Linked DNA regions of Homo sapiens. The protein of the gene in region 1 interacts with the protein of each later gene in a biochemical or structural test. Each region holds a gene or a part of one and is shown on either strand. Other genes may lie near its edges.

The links. The genes of interacting proteins can lie anywhere in the genome.
Region 2: the proteins of PAG1 (region 1) and SYK form a complex in vitro, tested with the Homo sapiens proteins (one study listed by BioGRID).

What each region holds. Positions count from the first base shown.
Region 1 is NC_000008.11:81,108,983-81,116,473, reverse strand, and holds the start of PAG1 (phosphoprotein associated with glycosphingolipid-enriched microdomains 1), read left to right. Parts: upstream 1-4,405; 5' UTR 4,406-4,883; exon of another isoform or gene 4,884-7,491. UniProt on the Homo sapiens protein: Negatively regulates TCR (T-cell antigen receptor)-mediated signaling in T-cells and FCER1 (high affinity immunoglobulin epsilon receptor)-mediated signaling in mast cells.
Region 2 is NC_000009.12:90,804,819-90,811,818, forward strand, and holds part of SYK (tyrosine-protein kinase SYK), read left to right. Parts: intron 1-7,000. UniProt on the Homo sapiens protein: Non-receptor tyrosine kinase which mediates signal transduction downstream of a variety of transmembrane receptors including classical immunoreceptors like the B-cell receptor (BCR).

The DNA.
Region 1 (7,491 bases):
GTCAAGTCCTTAAGCCTTGACTTTTCCTCTACAGTATAGTGTGAGGCTGCAGAGCTACATTAGTAGGTTTTGCCCTGATCTCCCTTGAAAGCCTTTTCTACACGATTCTCCTGTCCTCAGAGGAGCCCTAAAGTCACTCTTAAGTCTTCTGATGGAGAAGGAAAGTACTCTCTTAAAAACTACAGTTCATCATGGTTTACATTAAAATGATAAAATAGACACTAAGAGATGTCTAGTTTCAGATTTTAACTCTAGGAGAGATTTTGTAAAGCCCACCACTAATAGCTAGCATATTCGGAACCTAATATGTGCTTGAAGCTCTTGTTACTGTGTATTAGGTAATCAAAGATGGCAGTCACGTGATTACAGCTGATGGATGGAGATGCTGGGAGTGGGGGCCAGACAGCCTGTGAGGTTCGCACTGTGCAGCATGGCCTCTCCCCCAGCTGCTCTCTCCTTTTATTAGTGGGCAATTTGGTTGGGAGGGAGGAAAAAGTAACTCTTAGAGATTGAAATTGAGGGTATATTTTGTAGTAGTTCTTTAAAGCATCTATCATGGGTTTTAAGGAATTTATAATCTATTTCTTAACCTCTGATCCCTCTTTCCTATAGACAAAGTCACACGTGGAATCCTCAGCACTTTAAGTTCAGGTAAGCTGTGAGTTGCCAGCAGAGTCTTGATTGCTTGCTCTCTAATCTTGCTCACAGGCCATTGCCCAGTCTTATCTCAGAAGCTGCTGATACTCAGTCTCCACCAGCCTTTGCTCCTCAGCAACCAAAGGCCACTTCCTGCCTTCCTTCTTCCATCCCTAAATTCCATCCTGTCCCAGCCCCCGACCCCATTCCTGCCTTAGCCCAACATCCCTACCCATCACCTATTTCTTCTCAGGTTCAGGGTTATAATTAACACTCTATTAGCTTTTTTTGTTGTTAATAGAGACTTAAAAAACATTATGGAGCTAGCCTGAAAATCCTGATTATTTATTATATTGACTGCTCTAAATTGTAAGTGAGATAACTTAGACATGAACATTTACAATGCAGGCACGTCGTAAGTTTCCTGCATTAGGGCAAGAATTGGGCTTTCTAATACTTTTCTAAAGTTTCTCGGGAAAGAAGACAGGACCCTAATCTCCCCCAATCCCATCTACACCAGGGATTCAGTGATGGTTTCCAGTGAAGTTATCAGCTGCTGCATGTGTTCAAACAAGGCAAACTTTGTAATAAGCCATGTCCACAAATCAAGCACAACTTGTATTAATTTTTATGGCAAGCTTATTTTTCACCAAGTGGCATCTAATTCCTTCCTCCCAACTGTCTCACTCTTGCTAGTCACCTTGGACTCCCCACAGTTCTCTTATCTGGACTGTGTCTATGAAGTAAGTGAAGATTTTCATGTCAAAGAATCCCTTTGAGTGAAATGGATGAAGAAATGTAATTAATAAAGGTGGAGAATTTTTGAGCCTAAGCTTTCCAGCTCAGTTGGTAAGCCTGTGATTTTTAGCAGAAAGACTTTAATAAAAATCTATCCTAGGTACAGTTTCTGCATGAGGGAAGAATAGTTTCAGTGGAGTCATTAGTGTCTATATAATTGAATATCTCACTACTAGGACTTTTAGAGGCATTGAAGGAAGGAATTCTCAGCCAAAGAGTAGGCCTTGCTGACCCATAAGGAATACAGACCTCAGAGAAAAAGATGTAGCTGCGATTTCTGCCAGACAATCAATAGCAGCTGATGTGAAATAAATTCTAAATACAGACACAGTCAATATCAAGACACAGTCAATATTAAAGCACAGTCAATATAGTATCAAGACAATATTATATATTTCATGTATTTAATGCCAATAACAATGGTTCAAAATTCAATAGCAGTAGGACACACCAATTAATAGTAACTTTTTATTTAATTAAATCTTGGATCTCTTGAAATCAATATACAAATGAATTATGTAAATATTTTGATTGAAATGTCGGGCACCTAAGAAAACAATGACAACTTTGGGTTCTTCTAAAGGTCCCAACATGACTATTCTGCTACCTTCATATTTAAAATATATATATATTTCTTATTAAAAACTGAAGTAAGTTTTACAACCTGTGATGTACCAGCTCCTTCAAAGAATTCTTTTTTCTTAGGAATTAATTTCATAATCACACCGAAGAATGGCTGTAATGGAAGAGTTAGATAAGAAGTAAAGATAAAGGCAGGTAGACCACAGTTGGCAGTGTAGCATTCCCAGTCAAACCTCTGGATTAGAAGACTGTATATAACTATCACATACTTGCTTCCAAAACATTACTCAGACCGAGAGTATAGCCCATAGCATCTACCACAAGCACAAGAATTGATCCTGACACTTTTGGTTCTCTATCTAGGAGTGGCTTTGAAATACATTTGAGTTCCAATTTACTGATGGCAAATCCTGATATGAAAAATTTGGAAATGAAAAACAATCCTCAGCATGTTACTTGGTGAAAAGAGAGCAGAGGAAAAGGACAGAGGCTAGAGATTGGCTCCTGCCTGCATTCGTGAATTTGTCTAAATCACTTAGCTTCTGAGCCTGGGTAAAATGAGGATGGTAATTACACTTGTCACCAGATAACGTGAATATTGCCCTTCAAACTCCTCAATGAAGCCTGCACTGTGGAACTGCAATGTCCTAGGACCGGGTTGCTCTTAGAACATTTTGTTCTAAGTGTATCCTAACAAGTGTAGCAAAACTGGAAGACACAAAATGTATTTCCTCCCCACAAGAATGAAAGCCTTCCTAACTCCAAATTTAGGCACAGCCTGTAAAAGATGTGACTAGTAAACACAGAAACCATTTGCTTTATAAGGTCTAAATTGTCCTCTTCTCCAGAGTTGTAGAAGCCAAGTCCAACACGGAGATCCCTACTTTTATTCAAGTTCCACCATTAGTCAACTCATGTCCAGGATGTCTTCTTTAATATATAAAATGGGGATACTTTTTTATATTATTATTCAACTTAAGAGACCACTGTGAAATTTCAGTGAGGTAACGTATGTGAAATGTTATACTCCATAAGTTCTTAAACACCTGAGTTTCATACCATGCTCTGAAGCAAGAGGCCAAGTCTGGTTCCTGGGTCCGCTTCCCCAATGGGCTTTTCCAAGCTGTAGGCTGAGTCTAAACTGTTTCCTCCCACATACCCTTCCCTCTGCGACACACTAACAACATCCCTTACTCCATCACTGTCTTCCTTACCCTCTCCTGATGAGCCTTCTTCCCCAGCCACCTTTAAGCTCCCATTAATGATATGTGTAACGAGTGTTCAATAGAGTGTGTGTGTGTATATTTAATGCCATTTATATGTTTTTTCTTGCTAAGTAATGCATCATAATTTTAGAAAATTGGGACTAGTCAGATAAAGCACCCGTTGGTTTAGAATCCCTGACTCAAAGTCAGATGTCCTGAGTTCTAGACTTGGTTTGTCTCCTTGTAAGTGCAAAAGTTTATTCCCAATTCCAGGTTGCTAGTGTAAACTTGAAGTTTGGCCCAAACAAAACCCCTATCAGATTTATTTAGAGTGTTGATGCCAAATGGAATTCTAGAAGCCCACCTTTGCCAGGGGCTGAGCCAGAACCACTATCACTGGGGGTACGGCCTGGGCATTTGTTCTGCGTTTTTTATAAGCCCCTCGGGTGACTGTCAGACAGGCCAACTGTTTCAGAAGCTCTGCTCCAGGCTCTAGATCACACGTTAAGTAGCAAGGATGGGGGTCTGGACCTCCAGTATTGGCATCCTCCGAGAGCTTGTTAGAAAGGATGTCTCCCTCATTATCCCAGGCCTACTGAATCTGAATCTTGCATCTCATCACAATCCGCAGGAGATTCTGTCACACACTGAGGGTTTGAGAAGCACTGCTGTACCTTGGTATCTTTAGATACCTACTGATACCTGGGTGGGCCCCACCCAGACATTGTCCTGTACTTGTTCTGGGATGCGTCCGGGGCAAAGGGTTCTTACAAGCTCCCCAAGTTATTTTAATGCACAGCCACAATAGAAGATCACTGTCCCCCAAATGGCAACCCTTTACGGTTAAGCTGTAACCTGAATTAAATTGGCTTTTGTGGGCTCCCCAGGGACCTTAAGGACCGCTTAAACGGTGCTGTTTAAAGGACAATGGGCTCCTGGGACAAGTTCAACCACAGAGCTTTGGGTTCATAAAATCAGGGCAGGGAAGACTTCCTGCATCCTCCCGCGAGCAAGCCAGGCCCCGCGCCGGTCCTCACCCGTGTGCACCCCCAGCCCGGCCCCGCCCGGCTCGCCCCCTCCCGCCCCGCGGCCCGCCCCTCCTCCCCCGTGACGTGCCGCTGCGGCCAGGATCATGCGCACTCGCGCCCCGCTCCCCGCGCGGCTGCTCCGCCTCGGCGCCTGTCATTCTCCGCGGCGCGGCGGCGAGTGCTGGCTGCGGTACCCTCCCGCTCGCTTGTCCGTCTGCGCGCCCGCGATGTGACCAGCCGACTGGGGGCGGGCTGGCGGCTCTGCCTGCGGCAGCGCATCGGTTTTTCTCCTGGCAGGTCCCTAATTGAGCCGTGATTCCCTTGGAGCCAGAGACACCCACCAGGGGCTCGGAGCGCCGCGCTCCGGGGCTGGAGGCAGCTGCAGCGCTCGGGTCCGCGCGGCCGGGTGCAGTAGCCTCAGTCCCAGCCGCCGCCTCGCTGAGTCGTGTGCCCTGGCGAATGCCCGGCGCCCGGCACAGCTGAGCCAAGGCGACTGGTGCAGAGCGGCGGCGCCTGGTCCTGCACTTGCCGCTGCTGCCGGGCTGTGCCGGGGCGGCGGCGCTGCGCGCCGGAGTTTGCAGAGGCTGCCTCCGAGCGCCGTCCGCCAGGAAGACTCCCTGCCTCCTGAGTCCCAGTAAGTTGACTGTAGTTTCTGAAGTTGGAGGGAGCCGTGGGAAGGAGAGGTTCGTTTTTATCTTCTTGTGGGAAGCCGAGGGTGGCACCTCTTGTTAACAGAGTTCCAGCTCGAGGAGGGAGTGCGGGGTGCCAAGAAGGGGACAAGGCAGCTGGAAGGTCTGGAGTCCAGGGCTGGCTGACCTCAGCATCTCACGAATGTGCCAGTTGGAAATATGCTGGGAGAGGACAGGTACTCCTAGGGCATTTCGACTGCTGCGTGCTAATTATTCATTCCAAGCTCCTTGACTCTGTGTTTACGTTGGGGTGAAGGGGCTGGGCAGGGTCTTGTCACCTCCATCCTAATTCCTCTGGGGAGTGTGGCCAGCACTGCGATGGATCTTTGGGCGAGCCATTTCTTTCAGGCCTGCAGGCTTCCCGCGCATCCCGCTTTACTCTTCCCCTAGGCAGAAGTTGCCAACCTTTTCATAATTGGAGCCTAGTCCTTTAGGGAAAAAACAACTTATATGTCGACCCGGTGTTTTATGCCCTAAGGCAAATAAAACGAGCTCTGGGCGTGTGAATTCATACACTTTAAGAATGTAGGCAAGTCTCAAGAAATAGGATTCAGATAATGACACTTGGATTTCACCCTGATTGTCCTGCACCTCTTATGTAAGCCTCCCGGCTGGATAACTTTATCTCTGCAGTGGCTGCAGCTGTGGCCCTCCATTCCATTTGTTTAAAGTCCAATTGAACAGTATTTACTGAAAATGCTGACATGATATAGCGGCCTGAAGTCTGAAACAGAGTGCACTCTTCAAATTGGAGTGTCTTCTCCTAATAGGGAGCATGGGAGGAACAACCCACTATATTTTTCAAGGCAGCTCCAGGAATTAGACCCATAAATCATGTTTTAAAATAGCATGCATTGTGCAGAGAGCATGCAGAGGACCGCTTTTTGAACACATCCCCTTTGTTTTAGAAAAAGTGGAAATTGTTCATGCCAGACAATTGTTGAGTCTAAAAGTTAAGTGTACTGATGGGCCTAATTATCTTAATAAACAAAGAGCATGATTTATAGGTAGCTGCAGTGCCCTACTTTGAAGGATAGAAATCTTTAACCTTTCTTTCTCAGCTGTTCCCGAGAGATTCCTTTTAAGCAGAGCTATGGATTATCATCATTGATGTTTAATACCTGAGTTGGTTAAACTTGTAAAAGGAATAGTACTTTGAAGTACCATGCAGTACTGCTGTGTGACTGTTACACAGCGAATATTATAAATAAGAGGAATATTTGGAGTATTGGGTATAGATGTCATTAGTTTAACAAAATAGGTCATATTAAGACTTTCCTGCTAAATATATATACACATACATAAATGTTTAATTTGGACTTGAAATTATTGTTTAAACCAAAGCTCAGGGGTATGTTTTAATGTAAGATTTATTTACATAATCTTTGAAGAGAGAAGTGCATTTATTTATGGTATTTCAGCATGCAGAACAAGATGAACTAGTTATAGGCACCTTATTTAAAGTGTAAAGGGTTTTTTTTTAGGAATACTAAGAAAATACACAAAATGTTATTTCAGAAGTTGAAAAGTTAGTCACATCAACACATTGCGGTTTGTGAGAGCATCCAGTGCTTATCTCTAGAAGAGATTACATCCAAGCATGGAATCTCAAACAGATTGACCCATTAAGCCCTATTGCAGCCTGGTTAGGAGGACAGGCTATGGAGCCAGGCTGCCAGCTCTGGTACCATCTGTTTGAATCTAGGCAAGTAACCCAAAGTCTGTGCCTCAGTGTCTTCATCTGTACAATGGGGATGACAGTAGTAGTACCTACCCCACTGAACAGTAGTGAGAATTAAATGAGTTCATAGACATAGAGCTGTTGGGCCAGTATCTGGCATATTAAGCTTGTTCTGGGAAAAATTTTCATTGTTATGAAAGGAAATGCATCTTTGGACTCTATGGACATTGAATTGCTGCTATGGACATTGAATTGCTGCTGATGAATATTAACAGAAGCAGTTCATGTGTATAATAGGAGAGAAGGTATAAACATTTATTGTGCACTGTCTAGCGATACAGACACCAACTGGTATTTAACACTGTCTTGCTCAATTCCCCACCACAGTCCTTTGAGGTAAGTGGCTTCATCTCTACTTTAGAGATGAGAAAATGGGAGCTCAGTGAGATCAAATAGTAGAAATTGGAGCTGGCATTTAACCCACGTCTGTCTGTGTTGAAACTGTGTTCTTTTTGACCCTGCTGCCTCAACTTGCAAATGAAGTAGTTGCATTATTATCCTCAATTTATACATGAAGAAATCTAAGCTTAAGGATTAAAGTATGCAAAGTGCTTAACAGCACCCACAACAGAAATGATCATAATTATTGTTAAATAACTTGCCCATGCTTCCATACCTCCTAATGTGTGGTAGAGGTGCCAGGTCTTTCAATTTGAAGTGGATTCTGTTGCTTTATTATTTTTCTATTCATGCATTCAGAGAGTCAAAAAAGAAAAATTGGTGTGATGTTAGAGTTTACACTGGAGGGTGGTGGTCTCCATTTGGTTTCCTGCCTGCACGTGTAGCTGCAGCAATCTACACAGTCAAGGAAA
Region 2 (7,000 bases), on another chromosome or scaffold:
GATTGTGGGAAGATGTTTTAAGAACTAGTCTGATTGGATTTTAGGAAAGTTCATTCATTTTGATATGATGTTATCAGGGACATTTTCTATTTGCTTATAATTTTATCTGACCAATATTAGCTTGTATCAATTTGAGGTTTTTTTTTCCTTTATGAATCAATTGTGCAAGGTTTGCCCTACATCTCTTAAAAGGTGGTTAAACTGGAATCTTAAAGACAGTTGAATTTAGCCAAGACCAAAGATATGCAAAGAAAGAATATTTTGTTTATGTTACAGTACATTTAATAAATCCAAATGGCTCCCTTGATTCTTTTCTTTCTGGGACACCACGTATTGATTTCTGGCAGCTGGCCAAAGGCAGATGGTGGTGGAGCAAGCGAGGACAGTTAAGAATGTTGATGATTACTGGATTACTGAGGAGTACTGTGAGCTTTCTGGTCCTCTGCTCAGAGGTGTCTAGCTCTGAAACTGGGATCCTGGCTCTGAGCTGGAGAGGCGCTTCCAGTTACTGCTGTCCTGGAGCGCTGGAAGGGAGCATAAGTGTGAGGAGACAGTGGGCTTTTAGCCTGGGATGCAGATGAGAGATGTCTTGACCTGAGTGAAAACCTTGCAGGCAAGCTGCAGGTCTACCGAGCAGGGTGAGGGAGGCTCTCGACCTGGATACTGTGAACTAGGGAGAGAAAGTAAATTCAACAGAAGGAGGGCCCAGGGCAGAGATTTAGGAATATCCACAGTTTAAATATTGCTTTACTTAAGTATACTCTGCCTGACTATAAGTAGCATTTGAATGTTCAACATATGACCTTTCATTTCTCCCCTCCATTGGTTTGTCTTAACTGATAAATCTTTATTTTCCCATGGTCAACCTGGTAGTTTATTAATATTACATCTATCAGTTCCTGTTGAGTTGACATGAAAATGTTTTGGTGTGACCTAAGTTAATTTCTCTTTTTGTTTAATTTTAATTTGTAATGAGTTCCTCTTTTCATTCTGCCCATCCTTTGGTACTGCTTTGAGTTATGTCCTCTAGAATTCTCACTATTTCCTTATGATTGGCATATTTTCAAAGTTTTTTGGTGTACTAATTTTAAACAGTGTTTGTTGACACTGAGAATTCAGGACTTTGGAGTTTTAGACCACCATCACCTTCTACTCCTTCTCACACCATCCCAGGATAATTATTCTCTCATTTGAGATTAAGAAGTTATTTGGTTTATTTTATTATGGTTATATAAATATAGTTTACTGCTAAAGCAAGGTATATCATTCCATTTTCTATCTCGTACCCCTTTTTGCTCTTCCTGGGGTAAACCCTTGCTTTGTTTTTGTGTTTTCTTAGTTTGCACTGTGCCTATTATCATTTCCTTCCCAACTTTCTGACATAAAGATGAAAGCCCTATTGACACAATTTTCTACAGTGTCAGATATACCAAGTAATCTCACGGTTCCATTTTTCTTTCTTTTTTTCTAGAACCCTCCATCTTCTTCTTGTCTAACAGTTGCTCTTCAGTCTTGCTATACATACAGTAATACCTGAAGAATGTTTGGAGGATATTTGGTGTGGGACTTTTCTTTTTTTTTTTTCTTTTTCTTTTTTGTAGAGATGGGCTCTCACTATATTGCCCAGGCTAGTCTCAAACTCCTGGGCCCAAGCAATCCTCTTGCCTCAGCCTCCCAAAGTGCTGGGATTATAGGCATGATCCACTGTGCCCAGCCCTATGGGGAATATTTGTTGACTAAATATGTTTTATGTAAATTGCTTATCATACTCTTTGTTGTAACATCTGTGGCATTAATATGCCTCTTGTTAACACTCACCTACATTTTACCTGTTGTAAATCCACTGTCATAATTATTGAAAATATTTCTCCAGAGCTTTTTAATTCTATGGTTATTTATTTATTGTAGTATAGAACTTTTATGATTTCTTCCATCAGGGTGCATTCTGAATCATGCTTAGTGAGAGATGGTTTTTAACTCCACTTTAACAGTTAGCATCTATGTTTTACATCAGTGTCAATGTCACTTTTGTATTATATACGACACCAACATTTTATTATCTGAGTGATGAGAATGTTTATTTTTGTGGAAATGGAGATCTCATGAGACTTTAAGCAGATTGCTGGCCTTCTCCTCGATTTCCTTGATTGATTCCTGAAGTGGAACTGCAGTGCTAAGTGGAATTCCCTGGGAAGCTTGCTCAAGTAAGTAAGCATGAGAAATGCTGAATGAAATAAAGTGCAGCAAGCAGGGATAAATATCATGGGCATCTTCAGAGCCTTTGTGCAGGTAACATGCACAGAGATTCTCTGAGAGAGTCAGTCTCAGCCAGTGGTCCTACACTTCCATGACCCTGCAGTGCGTTTGTTCTTAGAGTGGCTTTCAGGGCTGGCTCTGCCACAGCCTCTTTGGGAAACCATGCATGACCTCTTGCTGCTCCTTACCAAGCTCCTTAGGCTTTGCTTGGTAGAGGCAGAATGTTGTGGTTGTTTTCATCTTAAATGCTAACAATATATGAATTATGTGGTGGATACACTGCCTCAAAGTGACATTTATCGAATATTTTTGTAGCTACGGGTTGAGAGTAAGGGTCTGAGGCCCCACTGGGTTCAAGTCCCCCTTCTTTATTTGTAAGCTCTTCTTTTGTAAATGGAGCAGTCACAGGGGGCTTCACTCTGATACCTAATGGAGACCGTGCCTGCAGTGCTCGGTACCTGGTATGTGGTTAAAACTGACATAACTGTCAGAGCCTCTCCCAGGCGGGCTGACTCTGGGAATCTGCCCTGCAGTCTTGGAGGGAAGGCACGTCCAGATAGGTTTGATGAGCAACTACAATTGCCAAAGTTAGTTTCTCTGACCTCCAAGATGGGAGAACTTTCTAATATTTTCTTTTAGGAAAGTTGTCCATTGCATAACTGATACACGAGTACATATCCTTTAGTACAGGATTCAGATACAGCGAGCAACAGAAAAGCCCTTCTTAACCTCCACCCTCAGTCCCAGCCCTGCCCCCAGTCCCACTGTTGGGGAGCAGTTGGAGCTCTAACCTCTCTTCTTTCGTCCTGTGCATTCATGTGTGCATGTGTGCACGTCTTCAGAAGATATAATGGTGGGCTGTGTATGTCTTCTTAATACCTTTATCACTCTGGAACTTTCTTTTTATTAATATGTTGGGGTGCGGGGAGGTCTCCATATTCAGTGATTATTGTAATTTTTATGACAGTCCAGAATAGGCATGTCGATTTTTTTTAATTTTTGATATTATAAACAGTGCTGCAATGAATGCACTTTTTCTTTTCATTCTTTCCCTCTCCTTTGCCATTTGCACTGTGTTTTCATGAAACCATCAGGTTAATCTTTATCTCAAGGAAGCCCTTCATCCCTGTCCATCCTGTTCTTCAGTCCATCCACTTAGTTTTCCTATGATTATTTTAGCAAGCAGGTGGTTAATTTCCAAGGAATGTAGTTACTTCTTTGGGATTTTTTTAAGTGATGTATTAGTTTTCTGTGTATTTTATTACTTGTTTGAGTGCACCATTACCCCCGTCTCCCGGGGTATCAGTTCATCTGCTTGCATGCTTGGTGCCTCTCTCTCCTGCTGTCAGCTTTCCTGATGTGCTGGGTATTTCCACGTGTGTGTTGGTTTTTTTTTTTTTTTAGGTACCCTAGGCATTAGTCTTTTAAGGCTGCATTCTTGCAGCCTGTCCCACATGAGATAGGAGGAGGGCAAGACCTGGATGTGCACAGGGCAGGATGGGCCCATAACTGGTCTGTGTGGTGTGTGGGTGGCAGGAACTCCCTGTTCTTTGTGGGTATGGCCATGCCTTCCCTATTCAAACGAAGCCACACACCTGTCTTTTCCTGCGAGGCGTCTTCTGCTGCTTTCTTGGAGCTGGGGAGCATCTACTCTTCCCTTGTCCTCCCGCTCCTCCCTGTTCCTCCCTCAGGTCTCTGTCGCTTCTAAGGCACTCCACCCTTGGTCTTCTCCCACCTTGCACCCCCCACACTGCTGCCTGCCTGCACAGGGGGACTGTGATTGCCCCCTTCAGTGTGAGCCTGACCTGCTTCATGCCTTTCAAGGAGAGCATTCATTGCCAAGCTACTCATGGAACATCTCCTCAGATCCTCAGCGTGCTATGACTTCATTTTCTGTAATACTGTTTTTCATGTTTCTTCCCCTTCTCTGCATTTATAGCTGTGCATATGCTTGAGGTGGAAGGCCACCACTTCCTTTTGGTTAACAACACCAATCAGCTGATGGTCATGGCTACGTGAAGGAACTCACAGTGAGGGCTCAGGAAGAGCCTGGCTAGAGCAGGCTGCATCGCAGGCCTTGGCGTTAGGTTCCCCAAATCACTGCTGGTGATCTTGTAGCTCTGTCATGAAGTCTGTCCTGCTTATTAGGATACCGAGGGTCCAAATTCATAGATTCTTAGAAGCCTGTTTAAATATGCAGAGTATCTAATTCAACCCGATTAGAAACGGGCTCAGAAAGGTGAAGGGATTTGTCCAACCACTGAGTGATGCTGCTGGGATTAGAACTCTCAAAACTAGGTGTTTCTAATCCAGAACCAGAATCCCTATCCACTACTCTAATAAGGCGTAAAAGAGGATCTGCTGTCCTGCCTAATTGGTGGGCAGGTTTGGAGTCCTGTCAGCAGCTCAGGAAAGCCTGGAGAGGCAGAGGGAGGACACAGGCTCAGTGTCAGACATGCCAATTTTACTCATCACCAATGGTTACACAAAACTTGTTTTGATCTTTGTGGCTTTTGCATTGAGAAGTTAAGCATATACAATAGGAATTAGACACAATCCCAAACCAATGAGAGACTCAAGTGAGAAGAGCTGAAGCTTTTATGCATGCCTTCCTTCCATAGAGATAAATTTACTATCCAGAGTGAACTAGAGCCTCGTGGAAAGTGAGTGCCGAGCCCCTAGCTGTGAGTGTCTCTGTCCTTCCCACATCAGACCTCCATGTCTGTGGCTGTCCCCCTACGGGGCAGAACTGCTGCTCTCTGCTTGTGTTGCTGTCGTGAGGGTTGGGAGTGGACAGGTGTGGACAGATCTCAGACCCGTTTCCCTCCTGTTATGGAAATGTTTGTGAGGCAGGTGGGACTTCAATGATTTGGTCAAGGAAAGGCAGCTTGGCAGCTGGGGAGAAGGGCTCAGGCTAGAAAGGCAAGCGTTTGTGAGGGATGATTTCCCCAAAGAAGCCAGCAGTGTGTAAGGTATTCCCCGGAGCTTGTTTCTTCTCAGAAGACTCTGGAAGCTGTGTCAGTGTCTGTTATGGAGGAATGGAGTATCAGTCCGATCAGGCTTTCATAACAAAGCACCACATACTGAACGGCTTGAACAGCCCAATGTGTCGCCTCCCAACTCTGAGCCAAAGAGACTGAGGTCAGGATGTCCCAGGGTGGCTCCTTCCAAGGGTTGGGTGGGACAATGTGCCCCCAGCATCTCCTTGGCTTGTGGGTGACCATCTCCAGCTCCACATGGCATGCTCCCTGTGTGCCTGTCTCTGGGTCCAGATCTCCTTTTCATGTAAGGACACCAGTCATGTTGGAGTAGGGCTCACCCTAAGGACTTCAATGGGGCGTAATCACTGCTGTAAAGACCCTGTCTTTAAATAAGGTCACACTCAGAGGGGTTAGGGAGTTAGGACATCAACATTTGAACTTGGGGGGACACAATTCAACCTGTAACAAATGTGTGAGTGAAGACTGGCACCTCCCCACGATGGCCTTTCTGTGATGCCATCAAGAGCACCAGGGAGCTCTCCAGATATGGAGATGGACAGATGTCTAAGGCCCCTGAAATGAGCCTGCTGTACAGATGATTCCAGAACTCTGTCAGTGTGAAGACCAAACACAATTAAGCACATTAAAATACTTACGGTAAAGTGTTTCTTTCACTTTAGATGTGCAAAAACTTAAAGAGAGAGAGACTTATGAGAAGACTCAGGGAAGAAATGTAAGATAAAGGTGTTAAGGGAGACAAACTCCACAAAATTGTAAAGTGAAGCTGCTGTGGGGAGTAGAGCCCAGACCCAGATAATATGCAGGCATGGGTCCAAGGGAGGCTTTGCACACCAGGCGGGGGAGGTGCAGGGCCATGGATGAATGGTCTTGGGAAAACGGCAAATCGTTTGGAAAAAAAAACAAAACTTTGCTCTTTATATCAAAATAAATTCCAAGCTGAACAAAGAATAAAAATATAGCATTGAAATAATGAAGCTATTAAAAGAAAACTTAGGTGAGTTTTAAAATAATTGTGAAGAGGCCTGTCTAAATGTGATAAAACATATGAATTTATATTCACACTCATCACAAGATTGATAAGCATGATTTCCTAAAATTTTAAGCAAATCCCCATAAAATGAAAAAATATACAAATAAGTGAAAAAAATGGTAAGATATATTTAATTTCAATACTTGTGGTAAAGCATCAATAGCTTTAATATGCAGCGAGTTTTTTCAAATCAATAAGAAAAAAGACACAGATGGGTGCTGACAGGGCCGTTTGGTAATATCTTTTAAAATTTAAAACACAAGTGCTTTCACTCAACAACTTCACTTTTAGGAACCTATCACACATATAAATTGACAAAAGTGGAGAAATATTCATTGCAACATTTTATTTTATAATAGCAAAAAAAAATCACTAAGGGAAGTACAGTTGATTCATATGTTGGAATCCTATGCAGTCTTCTAAAAAATGTGGAATTTATTTCATACACCAAATATAACAATGTCCAAGTTCTACTAGTGAAAAAGCAAGATGTAACATATCATTGTATTTGTTTAAAAAACTCATGCTGGGTTGGGTGCAATGACTCATGCCTGTAATTCCAGCACTTTGGGAAGCCAAGGTGGGTGGATTGCTTGAGCTCAGGAGTTTGAAGCCAGCCTGGGCAATATGGCAAAACCCCACCTCTATGACAAATACCAAAAAAAAAAACTAGCCTGGACTGGTGGTGTGCACCTGTAGTCCCAGCTACATG